2 separate regions of the Homo sapiens genome follow, and region 2 is linked to region 1. The links come from fine-mapping of genetic effects on gene expression. A gene starts in region 1. The other region holds a variant in brackets. All regions are shown on one strand. Distances are from middle to middle.

Region 1 (8,332 bases):
AAAAAAAAATCTATTGATAGTTTTATGTTGGGATGACATCAGATTTCTAAGTTAACTTTCAGTTAACTTATTATGATGCTAAGTTTTCTATCCAAAAACATACTATTTTTACCATTTGGTTTAAATATTTTCTGTTCTACAAGAGTGGTCCCCCAGCCCTTTCTTAACACAAAAGGTAAGTATATAGATACACACACAGGTTTTGCACATCTTTTCTTCCATTATATCTTTCAACAGATGATTGTTTGGGTATAAGAAGTCTATTGATTTCTTAGTAATATTTTAATACCTTGTTTCCCACTGAATTCTGTTATTTTTAGTAGTAGGTTATCAACAGATTTTCCAGGTATATAATCGTATGATCTGAATATAGCCAGACTCTCACTTCTTAACATATTTAGACCATTTTCCCTTGTCTTGTTGCTCTGGCTGGTCCTCCTAGGACAATTCGAGATACTATTGGTGATAGTGGGCATCCCTGTCTTAATACTGATTTTAGTAGGACCATCTCCAGGATTTGACAGTTCAGTGGAAAGCTATAGTTTTGGGGGTGAGACACAATTACATTTTATCATGTTAAGAAAGAATACATTGATTCCCATTTTATTGCATGTTTTAAAAATCAAGCATTGATGTTAAATTTTATCAAATGCCTTTTCATCATTTGACTATTATGGAATCATATTTGCCTTCCTTAAAAGAACATTTGAATTGTAACTCCTGCTTTAAAGTAGCCAGGCTGATTTTCTTGTTAGAGAGGTGCCAAGGACATTTTGAACAATATCCTGGGCGTAGAAATGCATACAGTCCCTCAAGGACAACAATTATCATGGATACGTAATCACCAGTCTCAGTGTCTTATATCTTCTCTATGTTTGTTTAATTTATGAAAATATTTATGAAACTCCCTCTGGGTGCTTGACCCTAGATTTTGGACAAGTAAAGACAGGATGATAAAGCTACCAGAACATCAGCAAATGTGAGACAGGAAGAGAGGAATGAGAGAGGGTAGCTGATGGGAAGAGAACAAAAAGAATATGAGAGGAGGTCAGAGAAAAAGAGAGTAAACAGAAGTAGCATCTCCCACAGGAGTTAGTAGCAGATGGGTCAAATTTTCTCTCTCCCCGCTCACCAGATCCCCATTTCCTTATTGGCCTAATTCAGTAGTTTCCAAGCCCCATCCAGGGCTCCTCTTATTACTGTCTCCCAAAAGTATGCACATGGTTTTAAAGATTTAATGTGCTTCTTGGCTGTGTCAAATTAACTGTACTTAATAATTATCTTGCCTTTTTAATGAAGTCATTTACAGCTGCCAACCAGGTTCTGGTAAGAATGTGCTCAGCTAAACAGAATTCTTATGCTGAGTTGATGTATTTTCAGCCAACAGTAGAGAAACTCAAAGTATCAGTTAAATTGAGGTTCATCTTGGATAAATGAACCATTCTGGAAGGCTTTTTGAAATGTTGACATTAGTCTGCATAGAGTTTGTTTCTTCGTTCCTAGACCTCTAAGGACATAAGACCTCACAGTGAGGACCTTGGATCTCACTCTCATTCAAGATCTGGTGGTGTATAAAAGGGCCAGGGAAGGTGTAGCCTTCACCTATAAGAAGTGTATACACTTGCCTCCACGATATATACTAGATCATTCTCTTAACTTCTCTCCAAGAGCTACCAAATGATGTTTTTTATAAAATTGTTTTCTTATATGAATAATTGTTCTGAGAAAAGCAGAGAGTAAAGATGAGGAAAACTGTGAAGCTGAATGGAAAGAATATTGCTGTCATAAATTAAAAAGCTTTTCAGTAATAAAATTGGCTCCTCGTCCTGAAGCAAAGGCCTTGATGGGGTCTGGTGGGAGTGTGATGCCTAACACAGCTACTATCGATAGGAAGTTATGCCAAGGTCCTTCCTGCTGGAGAATAAGCACTCCATCCCCAGGCTGTGGCCTAACAAATTAATTCAGAATCTCTGGGGATGGGATTCAGGCATCAGTAAGTTTGAAAGCTCCCCAAATAGTTCCAGTAGGCAACCTTACTACTCAAAATGTGGTCTTCAGGCCAGTAGCATTGGTAGCAGTGGGAGCTTGGTAGAAACGCAGAATCTTAGGCCCCAGCTTAGACCATCTGAATCAGAATCTGCATATTAACAAGATCCCCAAGATATTCCTGTGCACAATAAAGACTCAGTGTTAGAGACTGAGTAGTATTTCTTAAAGTGTGGTGCCTGGACCATCTGCACCGAACTCACCAATGGCATAGGAGGTGGGGGGATGAGGGTCAGAGGACTTCTAATAAAGCAGATTCTGGAGAGGATTCTATAGGTCTGAGGGAGAGGCCCTGGAATCTGCACTGTAATATGCTTCCAGCTGATTCCTAAGCCTACTGTTTGAGAACTGCTCCCAAGAGGAAAGTGAGTAGTAAGATGATTGCCTTCTCCTAGCCTCAGGGACAGGCCCTCATGACTCTAAAAGGTCAAAACATACCCATTGCAGGTGGGGGATGAGTTAGTTGATGATAATCTACTAATAATATCCAGTCTGACACATGTGATAGTTCTGCTCTCTGACCTGTAACAGAGTTAGTGGTAGCACTGCGAGGTCACCTAGAGTTAATTTGACACAGAGATGAGTGTCTCCATTCAATTTGTTAGTGACGGAATAGGTTGCAATTCGGATACGAAAGCTTCTACCTTAAAAGCAGGATTAAAAATGTAAAACAATGATGCTCAGATGTATCCCTTTTTGAGGATTTTTTAAAAGCCTTAAAATGTAGGGTAGAGAGCTGAAAGGGCGAGAATGAATTCCCCTAAGGAGGTTTTTTTCATCTTATAGCAGTCCTTTTTTGAAACTTCTGCTTAGGTCCAGATTTTTAAATGATAACATGAATTTAAAAAACAAATGAAGTGAGGAATGGAAAACTTGATCTCTCTCAAAAGATGTATTTGAAGTATGTAGTACTTTTACGTAGTTTTAAAAGCATTTCAGCTCATGTAAGTTATTTAAAAGCTTCTGTGATAACGGAAGTTTAAGTCAATTTATTTTCAAATACCTAGGATTCTGAAGTATGGCTCACACTTGACTGGAGGTAATAGCCGAAATCTTTCTAATTATAAAGTGAAACAAGACTGTTGCAATTGTAATAAATAATGAAATGGAATGGGGAACTGCAATGTGATCTAATAGTATTTGTTAAATACCTATTGAATTAAAAGCGGCAAAAGCAAAGAAACTTAACACTGGAAAACAAATCTTTGAGGCTTTGAAGACTTTCTTCAGAGCAGTGTTTCTTAAACCTTTTGGGGGAGGCATGCAATGGGGGACCCCTTGAAGATCTAGTGAAAAGCTGCAGACCCTCATCCACATGGGCAGGAGGGCACAGGCACACACACTTGGCAATTTCTGCAGTTCCGTGTACTCCCTGGAGCCCAGTGGGGAGACCAATCCGCAGGTCCCATGTTAAGAACCTCAGCTTTGACACTGCATTTTAAGAAAAAAATTGCACCATATTGACGTCCCTCATTTGGAATTGCTTGAGATCCAGGGGCAACTTTCCCAGCATCTAGGTCCCAGGTGGGCAGTAAAACTAGGGCTGTTTTCACTTAAACGGAAACAATTAGGCCGGCCATCTCGCAGGAATGAGGCGATGCCAGGTGAAAAGCCAGACCACTAGTTGATGCCAGGGAAAGAATCCCTTTATTGAAAAAGCCTACGCTCTTTCAGAAACGCGCCTCCATCCTCTCAGAGGGCCCCACCCACAGGTCAGTGGCACAGGCGGAGCCCCAAGGCTGCTGCGGCTCCATTCACACCAGGAGACGAAAACTTGTCTAAGCTGAGAAGGAAAATAGGCTCTTAGAAACACTGCCTTCGCCCTTCGTTTACATGTGGACTCAAAGAATGTCAGAGGTAGAAGAGACTCCCTCCTTCACCCTGTCCCCAACCTCACAGATGAGAAAACAGACTCCAGTGGGTTGAGGTGCTTGCCAAGGTGACATCCCCAGCTACTCATGCCCACAGCCCTCTCCGCAGCACCTCGCAGCCTGGCCAGGGGAGAAGAGGGCGTCGGCGTCCTCGCCCCACACCCCCAGCCGCCCACCTGGCCGGGGCGCCACGGGGAACAGAGACCCCGCCTACCGGCACCATGGAGTAGGTCATCATCATCAGCATGTCATGGCTCTCGGCGCGGATATGCGGCGCGGGCTCGCCGCTGTGGCTGCGCTTGTTGCGAGCTGAGCTGGCCGGGTCTTGGGGTGGTGCGGACGCCCCGCGCGGCGCGCGGCTCAACTCGGCCAGGAAGGAGCGCAGGGCACTGTCCTCGCGCTGCTCCCGGCCCCGCTGCGCCTCCAAAGCCCGCAGCGCCGAGCTCAGCCCGCGCCACTGGCACAGCGCGAACACCGTGCCCGCAGCGTTGAGCGCCGAGAGCAGCGCCACGGCCGCCAGGGCGCCACGCAGGCCCCAACCCGCGTCCCCACGGCCTCCCTCAGCGCCTCGGGCCATGCTCTATGCGCCTTGGGCAGGGCAGGGCTTGGCAGCCTGCGGCCCTGGCAGCCTTTATACGCCTCGGGCAAGCCGTGGGCTGGTGGCAGCGTCGTGAGTCAAGTCACCCTTTGGCCCAGCTGGCGGGGCGGGATGGGGACAGTAGTGGTGGCGCCCGAGCAGCCCAGAGGGACAGGCGGGCAGAAGCAGGAGAGGAGCCAGTGGAGGCAGCCTGCGGAGGAGGGGCTGGCAGGGCTCGTGCTCCCAGAGTCCCGCCAGCTGAGCAAACCCTCTCCTCCTCTTCCCACTGCTCTGCCTGAGGGCATTGCCGTGGCCCAGACAGGCAAAGCAAGGGTCAGACTGAGGGGGAGAGCAGGAATTCTTATGGAGAGAAGTCTCCGGATTCCACCCCCTTCTACCCCCACACTGCCCTCTTGGAGAAAAAGATCAGCATGCCCAGATGCTAAGGCACGTGCCCACTGTCCATGGGAGGTCTGGTCCTGGCCCGAGCACCAGGCTGCGCATCACTCCCCACCATGGCCATGAGGCTCCACGAGGCCACTGAAGACCCCAGATGATCTTTCCCAGGAAGGGGATGGATAGGGGCAAGGAGACACTTGGCACTGGAAGGCAAAAAAGGCCACCCATCAGAACCAGAAAAGCCCAGGACTGCCTGGCCAACAGGACTCGTCCTTGAAAGGAGAGTTCCAGGATTTGACAAGTCAGGAACTCTCCGATGAGATCCATATCTGGAAAATGGCAGGATGGTGAGGAAAAAAACCCCAGGAATCAGGAGACCTAGTTCTAAAGCCACTCTGTTGCTACTCAGCTGGGAGGCTTTGAGCATGTCCCAAGACCATGAGGAGGTGCTTTCTGGCCTAAGGGTTGGAGAGCTGGGCCATGGTTGGGTTCTTACCTAGCCCTAGGAAAACATGTTTTCCCATGCCTCTCATTTACTCCTCACAACTTTTATGTTGCCCAATACCTGCTCTGCCTCGAGGGTCACTGTCAACCAAATGCAGAGTCACTTTTGAGTCTCCTCAGAGAACCTCTTCACTCAAGATCTTTCTCAGCTTCTCCTAGAATGGCTCTGCTTCCCTGGGGCCCCAGGACCTATGGGAAACTAACGTAGACAGCAATCTTCAAGCCCCATGTTAAGAACCTCGGGTTTGACATTGTTTAAGAAAAAAAAAAAATCACTCTGTTTGGATGTCTCCCATTTGGGAGACCCAACCAGAAGGCAGGATTGCTGTTTCCATAGCCCAATAACTCAAGGAAGAGGTGCCTCCCCGCCAATGAGCCAGCTGGAGCAGTTATAGAGAAAGGACTTCCTCTATCAGAGACCACACTGTTTCAGCACCTGAGGGAGACCAGTAAAATGATCAGAGAGCAAGCTCCTTTTGACTTAATGGTAGGAGCTCTGTAACCATCTACTCCCCAAAGATTCACATTCTGATGTGGTTTGGATCTGTGTCCCCACCCAAATCTCATGTTGAATTGCGATTCCCAGTATTGGTGGTGGAGCCCAGTGGGAGGTGACTGGATCATGGGAGTGGTCCTTCATGAATGGTTTAGCACCATCCCCTCAGTGCTGTTCTCATGATAGTGAGTTATCATGAGATCTGGTTGTTTAAAAGTGTGTAGCATCTCTCCTGGCCCCTCTTCCTCCTGCTCCCACCATGTGAGATGTTCCTGCTCCTGCTTTGCCTTCCTCCATGAGTAAAAGCTCCCTGAGGCCTCCCCAGATGCAGGTGCTGCCATGCTTCCTGTTCAGCCTGTGGAACCATGAGCCAATTAAACTTCTTTTCTTGTAAGTTACCCAGTCTCGGGCTTTTCTTTATAGCAAGGCAAGAATGGACTAATACACATACCAATTCTTGCAGGTAGGATTTTTTGGCACAGGAGAGAAAGCTGAGTAGTATCAGACTTCTTGCCCCCTACTCTCCAGGGTGAGCCAGGGTAGAGCCTCTGAGAATGCACAAGGAAACTGAAGTGACATCTCAATCAGAAATTCTGAGTCAAAGTTTAGATTCCTGAGTTTTAATAGGAACATTGACCAACTTCAGTATTCTTAGAAGAGCATACAGGATAAGAAGAAATTAGGAAAGCATGAAGGTCCAAGTGTTTCATAAAGTACCCCCACTGTGGGGATATGATGACTGGGAGGGGATGGCAGTGATGTAAAAAGCTTTGTCCATTTCCTCCCAACTCAAACGTTCTGTGACCTACTTGAAGAACTGTCATGTATCCTTATCTCTTTTCATCCAGGTATCAGGTTTAGGGCCAATGGGGAGGAGCCACTGAGAGGGAGGGTTGACACTCAGCATCATTCAGATCTTCATTTAATTCAGTAAACACTTAACTGAGCACTTCCTGTGCCTGGTATGATAATGGGCATTGGAGATACGGAAGTAAAAAAGACAGGCAGATTACCCTGTGAGCAGCTGGAACACCGTGGAGCCTTCTGGGCTTCTCTTTATCCTAACATTCATTGCAGTTACTGTTGACTGATCATCTCTCAGCAATACCCACCATTAACCATGGAATAGAAGCCTCCTGAGGCTAGGGGCCATGTCACCCCCAACACATAGCACAGTTCCTGATTTGGAATTCACTATTACCCGTTGAATAAATGAGTGAATGAACGAATGAATAAATGAAAAGCTGTATAGTGAAGGCACTTCTATGTAGAACAATGTGGTGTGTGGTGGGGGGTGTGATCTTATGATTACATGTATATAGATTTTTGTCCATGGTTCTTGTCCATAACTCCCATGACACTTGCTGAGGTCTTTTGCTATAATGTAGAGGTGCTTTAGGCCTCAGGAAACAGAATATTTCTCTGGCCTTCTTTGCCCTCCTTTCATCCACCCAAGGCGGGACTCTATAATCTGATTGTGGGTCATAAGACCCTCATTCCAGAGGAGGTCATGCCCCATACCCTGGAGGAAGGAATGCTGCACAAAGAGAGGAAGAAGAATCTGGACAGACAGACCTTGCTGAGATTAGATCATACCCTTTTTGTCCAATCACATTTTGTTCAATCACATGCTTCAGTCATGGACAACAAATGAAATCTCCATAAAAGGCCCAAAGGACAGGGTTCAGGGAGTTTCTGGAGGGCTGAACACGTGGAGGCAAACAGGAAGGTGAAGAAGAACTTATCCTATCAGGACGGAAGGTCCTGTGCTCGGGATCTTCCAGACGTCGCGTATGTATCTCTTAATCTGACTGAGCCCTCAACCTGTGGGATCAGACACTCTTTCCAGGTAGATAGTGTTGGAACTGAGTTGGAGGACACCCAGCTGGTGCCCGCTGCTTGGTGTGTGGGGGAAAATCCCCTACATTTGGTCGCAGAAGTCTTCTGTGTTGATGACTGTTGTCGTGGTGTGAGAGCAGAGGGAAAACACTGCTTGAGTGTTTTTCTGAAATAGGAGGGCCTAAGAACTATACTGTTCTATGCCACAGAACTGGCCCCCTACTTTCCTTGAAAGGCTGGCTATCCAATGGTGAGGAGAGGAAGTGGTAGCCTGAACCAGCCTCCCCATTTCCCCACCTCCCACCCCAGTTCAGAGCCCAGATCCAGTAGACAGAGCAGAGATGAGGCCTGCTTGGAGCCAGGCAGGCTCTATTAGACAACTTCAGGCCAAGAAGCTGCCCCTCTTGGGATGCAGGACTCAAAAGGCTTGTAGCATGGCCACCCCGTGGGCTGGGTTGGTGGAAAGCCTGGGATATTGCTCTGGGGCAAGAGGGGCAGAAGGAAGCGCAAATGAAAAGCCAGACTCCTTTCCTACCAGACTCCACTGTCAGATCCCTCTCCAACTCTTCCTGTGTGGGATGATGGCATTTTTCACAGAAG
Region 2 (8,332 bases), 25 kb after region 1:
GGATAAGGCAGAGCTTTGGGGACAGGAAGGAACAGGGCTGAGAGGAGGACCTGAGAAGTGGGGTTAAGGAAAAAGGAGAGATCATACAGATTTGGTGTCTTCCCAGATTGAGACAGCTTTTGGGCCTCTTGGGGCCACAAGGAGCTTCAGAAATTGCCAGTGTCTTTACATGGAGTACCTGAAATGTCCATCTGGTCTCCTCACTCACCTGGCACCTAACCATGTGCTGTTTTGTACTTGACTGTTGCTTACCTGTGTCTCTAAGTCCTTGCCTCAGCCAGATAAAAAGCCTTCTCAGGGCAATGCCATTGTATCCTGTCTGTTCTCTCCAGTGCTTACTTCACCCAGGGCTGGGGGTAGCAGGTGCTCCCTGGAACTTGGCAAACATCCTCATATTGGGAGGAGCTTGGCTGGTTTTCCTTGATCTCCCTCTTCCCAGTGTGTGGCTCTTGACAACTGATTGGACCCCAGACTTAAGGTAAGACTATACAATGTGATGCTCACAGTATGCACATGATGCAGCTGTGAGCAGGGATGGGAGCCGAGGATGGTGCCTGAGCACAGAGGGGAAGAGCATTGGATGGGGAGATTTGAGTTGGAAGGTCAGATCCTCAAAGGTCTACTCATTGGAGTCTCCACATCTGTGAAAGGAGGGGATGATATCTATCTCCTAGTGTTGTAGAAAGTAAGAGTTAATATACGTGAACAAATGATGGCTGGCATTCAAGTGTCGCTCTGTGACCCTCAGAAGGTGTTCACATCCATGAGCTCATCTGAACTTCACAGCAGGGCAGGCATTATTATAATTTCCATTGGCAGACAAGAAACCTGAGGTTCAGAGAATACAAATGACCTGATAGAGATCACCTGACTATTAAGGTAGAGCTGGATCTGGAGCCCAGCCTGACGTCTGCCACTGTCTTTTGCTGTCCACTTAAAAGAGCAGCTTGCACACGTGCAGGGCTACATAGGGTTCAAAGGCCTTTCATGCCCATTAACTGCTTATTCTTCCTAGAAGGATGCATAAGCCCAAAGTTTTGCTATATATGAAGACATGATTTTCATGAGATTCCTGCAGCCAATGAAGAAACAAGCCTTCAGTAATCATGTGGATCCATGGTTTAGTTGTCCCTTATGGGTGACAGGTGATGGGTTATGAGGATTAGATAAGAGCTGTTTGTAAGAATGTCTACAAGGTGCAGTGACAGGCTCTGGTCAGATATTTTGATCATGCTACAGTGCATGAAATTGTTCATAAGAATTGTATGTGCATCTGTATCTAACAGGATCTGCTTATATCTTCAGAAAACTTTGTCATAAATTTAAATTACTTAAAGTGTCTGATCTTCAGATACTTTAAGTAGTGCATTTGAGAATGGGAATGTTGATTACAGTGCGTATAGGGAAATAGATGAATATTCCATTAATAACTATTAAAATCTGCTAAAGCTTAGGCTAAGCTGAATATATTTAGTTGTAATAAAATTGGGTGAACACATTCCAACTTCAGCCTGATTAAGGGAAAGGGTGTAGGGGTGAGACACTTAGGCGGAGCTTGAAAAGGAATGGTGAGAGTTTGGCCAATGGGAAGGAAGGCTGTGCCAGACAGGAATAGTGTGGGCTGACGACAACTGAGGGCAAAGTGCTTGTCCCCTCATAGTTGCGCAATGAATGCAGAGGGGCTGAGGTTCATCTGTCGTCTTCAGCTCTGCAGGCTACATCTCAGGGTGTTTCCTGTGAAAGTTCCAGAAGAAAGCTGTATGGTCAGCTTGGGGAAATATGTGGTTCATGCTGGAATGCTGGACATACCACATTATTGGAAAGATGCACATTGAATGACCGACAAAATGAAACTCAACTTTCCAAATGCTGGTAATGAGAGAAGATTCTGTTCTAATGACCAGTTGTTTCCTGAAAGAATGTCAGCTCGATTCATAATGAATGCATTCTAACCATGACAGCCACAGTCAGGACACAAAAAACAAAGTGTCCTTGATCCCAGGAAACAGCCCTCTGGAATCTGTGAAATCTAGAAACTAGATTGGGAAAACTCTGACACCCCTGCCCCATGACCAACCAAGACTAAGAGTCCCAGGAAGATTGAGGTCACAGAAGGCAGAGGCCTGCCCCCTCTCCAGGAGATCCCTGACCCATGTGGGGTCATGGGCGGGGCATGAGTGATGTGATGGGAAACTGGCTCCTGGCTCCAAGTAGAACGTGACCAACTGGAGCCTGACAGGAGGTCCCTGGCACTGGTCAGCCCATCAAACCAGGTAAGTCCTTGGAGTCTGAGTAGGGACAAGAGACTGTTCTGTGCTTTGGCAGGGATCAGGAAGATGTTAGAATGTGGTTGTTGGAACTTATCTTTGGAGCTGAACAAACATGGCTTTGCATCTCCACTTTGCTATCAACTGAGTGGCTTTAATTAAGTGGCTTCATTTCTTAGATCCTCAGTTTCTTCATATTCACCTGTAAATTTTTTTTTTTACATTTTTAGACTGTTGAGGGCAGTAAATTAGATCATGTACATAAAGCACCGAGCACTGTGCTAGACACATTGGTACTTACTACACAGTGGGATAGCACCCCAGCTGTGACAGCCTTGTGAGGGGAGCTACACAGGAGGCCCAGGGAGAGTGCTCTGAGTTAAGGATAGGTCCAGATCCTACACTTCTAGCAACACCCAAAGCCCCCTCTTGAACATGTTGGGGTGTGATGGGGGTGGGGAGATACAGTCGTGTTCCCTGGCTGTGTCAAAGTGTGAAATCTTTATACTCCGTCTGCCCCAGATTCTCTCAAAGAGCACAGAATTGAAGGATAGCACTGGACCAAGTGTCAGGAGAATTGAGATGGGCTCTGCCACTCCCTGGCTGGGTGACCTTGGACAAGTCCTTCAACCTATTGAGGTCTGGGCTTCTTCATTTGTACATTGGAACAAGATTATCTGCTCTGTCACAGGATGAACTCCAGCCTCATTAGCCTGGCATTCAAGAACCTTCCATCATATTCCCTCACCACAGCTCCCATGAGTCCTCTTCATGCCCACATGGTTCTGCCATATCAAACTCTTCTGGGCCTTTCTTTCACCCCTAGACAGAATGTTCTTGCATTCTGTGTGGGGGTGAATGTTCTTGCCCAAATCTCTGTGTATCTAAAGCCCATATACCTTTGCATCCCCTGCAGCATCTTGCACAGGGGCTTGCATAAAGCAGATCATTGTTTTCTCAGTTAGGATTAGGTTTGGGGCAGGAAAACAAAAATAATATTTATTTAGCAAGTTAGAAGTGATTTTTCTCTTGCCGGGCGCAGTGGCTCACGCCTGTAATCCCAGCACTTTGGGAGGCCAAGGCAGGCCGATCACGAGGTCAGGAGATCAAGACCATCCTGGCTAACATGGTGAAACCCTGTCTCTACTAAAAATACAAAAAAAATAATAATTAGCCAGGCATGGTGGTGGAGGCCTGTAGTCCCAGCTACTCGGGAGGCTGAGACAGGAGAATGGCGTGAACCTGGGAGGCAGAGCTTGCAGTGAGCTGAGAATGTGCTATTGCACTCTAGCCTGGGCGATAGAGTGAGACTCTGTCAAAAAAAAAAAAAAAAAGAAGTGATTTTTCCCTTATGCCAAAAGAATCCTAAAAGGAGGGTAGCCCAGGACTGGGAAGGTGGCTCCTTGTGTTGGGGACCCATGCTCCCTCTGTCTTGCCACACCAGCACTCTTGGCACCCTACCTCATAGTCCCATATGGCTGCCTGGGTTTCAGACATCTTATTCTCATTTAGCCAGCAAAGGATGAAAAGGGCAAAGCATGCATTCTCTTCCTTAAGGGAGGCTTCCTAAATGCTGCACATGACACTTTTGCTTATAGCTTTTTGGCTAGAACTTAGTCACATGGTCATATCCAGCTGCAAGAGAGGCTGGGGAATATAGTTTTTAACTGCACATATTGCCATTCCTTCTTTCTTTCTTTTCTTTCTTCCTTTTTTTTTTTTTAAGAGACAGAGGTCTCCCCATGTTGCCCAGGCTGCTCTCCAACTCCTGGGCTCAAGCAATGCACCCACTTCGGCCTTCCAAAGAGTTGGGATTACAGGGGTGAGCCACCATACCTGGCCATATTGCCATTTCTAATAAAATTGATAGGGGAGACTGGGAGAACAGATATTCACAACCCATACAGTGCCTCTGCCACAGCTACTGAAAGAACCAAAAATATAAAAACTCACTAAGAAGTTTAAAGCCCTATCTAATATATGAGATTATTATTACAAAACACTTAACTCATTTTAGATAAGTTAATTGTCCTGACTTTTAGGTTGAAAACAGCCCAATTTTTCTTCACCTCTAGTGGAAATATGATGACATGTTTTTTCTTTTTTATTTTTTGTAGAGACAGGATCTCGCTATGTTGCCCAGGCTGGTCTTGAACTCCTGGCTCAAGCAATCCTCCTGTCTCAAACTCCCAAAGTGCTGGGATTAGAGACATGAGCCAACATGCCCAGCCAACATATTTTTTTCATAGAATAATAACTCA[G/AG]AGTTGTAAGTGAAGATAAATTATTAGTCCTTCCCCTTACCTTACCACATTTTACTACTGAGGAAACTGAACTCCAGTGAGGCTAAGTGATGTGCCCATGATGGCACAGCTGAATGGCGAAGGAACCAGAACTGGGACTTGAGTTCCTGGACTCCATCAGGGCTTTTTCCTTGATGAGCAGCCCATTCAGGTTCTGCTAACTGTCACTCGGAAGCCTTGAATTCTGTGCATCTCCTAACCCTGCGTGAGAGCCCTGCTCTGCCAGCACCCCTGGAGGCAGATCCAGGTCACCGTGTTGTCAGCCACATTCTTGCCAGCACGTAGTTCAAGTTTCCATCTGAAGAGAGGGAAACATGAAGAAATAGAGGAGCGTGCTATTAAAATAACGAGGCCTTTTTGCTAAGAGCAAACAATCACTTCCTTTCCTTGGCACCCAGAATCTGCAGGGCCCTGAATTAGGCACTGAAGGGAGATCCAGGGAAGCATGAGGAATAGTCACTGCCCTTGAGGGCCTGGATGTATAGGTTCATTCTACTTTTCATTCATTTATTCAAGAATTATTTCTTGAGCCTCTACCAACAGCAGACACTGAGCCTGGCACTGGGTTTAGAGCAAGAACCATATAACTGGGTATACAACAGTAAACTGTGCAGATATGGTTCTTGCTCTAAAATTGCTTGTAGTCTAGTGAAGGACAGAGGCAAGTAAACAAGCAACTACAAAATGAAATGAAGATTGCAGTGATGGGGAGGGGAGGGGGTACTCTGGGTGTAGACTGGGGTAGGGTGGGCAAGGCTGAGTGGGTGAGATATCATTACAGTGGAAACCCGAAGACTGAGTATGTGTGAGCTAAGCATGCACCATGAGGGGTCTGGCAGTTGGGACGGAAGTGTACTCCCCATGGAGAGAATGTGCAGAAGCACGCATAACCTTCTGACCGGACTGCAGCAGGCCTGGGTGACGGTGGTGGTGAAGGTGGGGAGTGTTGAGAAACACAACCAGCAAGGTAGGCAGGGGCCCGTAAGTGAAGGACTTTGAAAGGCCTGTTGGAGAGTTTCTGTGTTATCTCAAGGCCAGTGAGATAAAGGGCTTGAAGCAGCAGATTTGTATGTTAGAGTCCTCTGGCCTCGGGGTAGAGAGTGGATGAAAGCAAGCAGGATCGGATTCAGAGAGGTCAATTAGGAGCTGTTGCCAGGGACAGTGGCTTGAACCAGGAAACAGCCCAGAGAGGTGCAGAGAGGTTGAGGAATTTGAGACATCTTTAAGAGGTACAACCAACAGGTTTGGAGACTGGGTCGGAAGTAGGAAATGAGGAAAATGGAGGAAACCAACACTTATGAAGAAACAAAGACAGAGGCTGACAAACAAAAGCAATAGCCATTCTCCAGGAAGAAAATGGTGGCATGACCATGTGTTTTGAGCAAGGAAAAATTGCAATGGGCTAGAGAGATTTTGAAGGACTTTCTAGAAGAGTTAGAATTGGAGCTGGGTCTCCGACATGGGTAGGATTTTGGTGGGTAGAGAGGACATTCCAGGCTAAACAATGATGCAAGTTAGAGTTCTAAGGCAGAACAGTGTGTGATTTGTTTAGCATGATTTGGTCATGGTTTTCTTGGGAGAGTCCCAAAGAACTGATTCTCCAGGGGGTGTTACTAAAACTCTTATTGAAAGGAGGGACTACAGAGATGAATCTCATCACTCTCCCAGAATGGCACAGAGCTTTTCATGGACCCCCGGGCCACCTATGTAGGAACCTCAGGGGGTCTGTGGACCACTAAAAGCCCAACATGCCTGAGACTCCACAGATACTGGCTTCCACCATGATAAAGGCAAAAAGTCCCTCTTTCCCAAAATCAATACTTTTATTCTCATAGGCCTCCTGCTGTGGTCTAGTCCCCATGTTGAAAGCTGCTGTCCCAGGGTGTTGCTTCACTACTTCTAGGCTCCTGCAGAGTCCTGCCTCATAGGCCGCACTGGTGAGTGAGGCCAGCAAACCCATCAGGGAGACTACATGAATCCAAGGCCGTGGAAGACTTAGGTTTGGATATTCCCTCTGCTCCCTCCTGGCTGTGTGACCCTAGAATAATTACTCACCCTCTCAAAACCGAGACTCAGAGACGTTGGGTAATTATTCTAGGGTCACACAGCGAGGAAGGAGGAGAGGGAGTATCCAAACCTAAGTCTGTCTGACAGCAAAGCCTGTTCTCTCCATCTCTCCAGGTTCCTAAGCCAGGTGAGCGTTGAACCTTTCTTGAATCAAGGTTCCAATTCCAAGGTAGGAAAGCACAGTCAGTCAGGGAAATATTTACACTGAGACCACGCACCCCAGCCCTTTCCCAACCTGCTCTTGTGTGATCCTTTTGAGGTTTTTTGTTTGTTTTGAGATAGAGTCTCACTCTGTCGCCCAGGCTGGACTGCAGTGGTATGATCTCAGCTCACTGCAACCTCCGCCTCCCAGGTTCAAGTGATTCTCCTGCCTCAGCCTCCTGAGTAGCTGGGATTATAGATGCCCGCCACCATGCCCAGCTAATTTTTGTATTTTTAGTAGAGATGGGATTTCACCATGTTGGCCAGGCTGGTCTTGAACTCCTGACCTCAAGTGATCCCCCCACCTCAGCCTCCCAAAGTGCTGGGATTACAGGCATGAGCCACTGTGCCTGGCCTTAAGTTTTTTATAGATGGGAAAACCGAGGTCCAAACGTGAGCAAGGGCTCTGCATGCTACCTCTCTATTTTCTCAGCCCCTTCTGCAGGCTCCATGCCATAAGAACATGGCTCCTAAGGTTCAGGCCTATGGCCCCAGTTTAGGTGGTGCCTCTGCTCTGCTCCCCACCACCCCAGCCTCCTATTTGAAGGCCAAGACTACTCAGCTTTGATTCAGGTTGAATGAGTCATCAAGGGTAAAACAAAGAAGAGAATAAAACAAAGAAGAGAAGGCCTATTCCCTTGCAGATGAAATCAATCCACTCACCTTTTGACATCTTTTTGTTCTAGAATGATGACAGTATGCAATGACTCAGAATCATCACACTCACAGAGACTACTTTGTATTTTTTCTTGCAAATGAAGAGACAATATGCCCAAAAAATGAGCTGAAAATGGCTCATGAAGGGAGGGAAGATGACCTCCAGCACACCAGGGCAGAGTGGGGGCCACATGAAGGTGCAAGAGTGGGAGGGAACCACAACGCCTTGGCAGAGAGGAGAGCAAGTGGGGGCCAAGCCACAAAGCTCTTCAAGGCCAGTCAACAGTGAAACCTGAAGGAGTCCCATCCATCCCCAAGTCTGCTTGAGTTAAAGCCCTGCACCCTCACAAGCAGCTGGAGGGAGGGGAGGAAAGATATTTTCAAAAGAGCCATCATATATGGGGTGTGGGAAAGAAAAACTTGCTGCGTCTAACACCAGAGAGCCTCTCCAAGCCAAGCCATCTGCCTCAGGGCAAAGGAGGGAATGGAAGCGGGAGAGAAGGGTTTGGAGCCAGCTCTCAGCAACATGTTTCTATCTGGAGAAATGAGCTGAGAAGATCTGAATCTTCTCCAGCCTGTTCTGCAAATGTGGGATAATCGGCCCCTGGCCCAAAGGCTGGTGCTCACAGCGTGGCTCCGGCATTACCCAGGACTTTGGTTCTTGGTGATGGGAAAGAGGACAAATTTGGAAGCCAGAGAAGCTAGGGCTGGATGGTCTGGAGGAAAACCTCCACTTCTCTCAGACTGTTTTTTCTGAGGAAACAGATGATTGCAACCTCAGAGGTTGGGAGGATGAAATGATGTAATGCATCTGGAGCTGCTCTGTAAACTGTAAAATGC

Alleles and levels. Alleles are on the strand shown, and positions count from the first base shown. SD is a standard deviation of normalised expression in the study named.
In carriers of allele G in region 2, the expression in sun-exposed skin of the gene that starts at base 4,524 in region 1 tends to be higher than with AG alone (small effect, 0.32 SD a copy in GTEx).

The links. PIP is the estimated chance that this variant, and not a neighbour inherited with it, causes the effect. A credible set is the group of variants that fine-mapping cannot tell apart.
Region 2: its variant is the best candidate, but not a certain one, in a credible set for the expression of GLDN in sun-exposed skin (GTEx, PIP 0.57).

Annotation. Positions count from the first base shown.
Region 1 is chr15:51,337,847-51,346,178 of GRCh38, reverse strand. GLDN (gliomedin) reads right to left here and starts at 4,524. Exons shown (of 10, transcript NM_181789.4): 1 at 4,132-4,524. The coding sequence starts at 4,494. It overlaps CYP19A1 (cytochrome P450 family 19 subfamily A member 1), which reads left to right and starts at 7,583. Exons shown (of 10, transcript NM_000103.4): 1 at 7,583-7,684. RefSeq lists cis regulatory regions at 5,343-5,367, 5,440-5,483, 7,277-7,306, 7,371-7,388, enhancers at 5,173-5,536, 7,340-7,419 and promoters at 7,340-7,658, 7,081-7,658.
Region 2 is chr15:51,312,374-51,320,705 of GRCh38, reverse strand. All of the region lies in intron 1 of CYP19A1 (cytochrome P450 family 19 subfamily A member 1), which reads left to right. MIR7973-2 (microRNA 7973-2) reads left to right here and starts at 6,599; the gene lies at 6,599-6,674. It overlaps MIR7973-1 (microRNA 7973-1), which reads right to left and starts at 6,672; the gene lies at 6,597-6,672. It overlaps LOC112268146 (a long non-coding RNA gene), which reads right to left and starts at 778. Exons shown (of 2, transcript XR_002957708.2): 1 at 1-778. RefSeq lists promoters at 1,704-2,183, 1,498-2,183. The variant G/AG (reference allele first, on the strand shown) is at 4,529.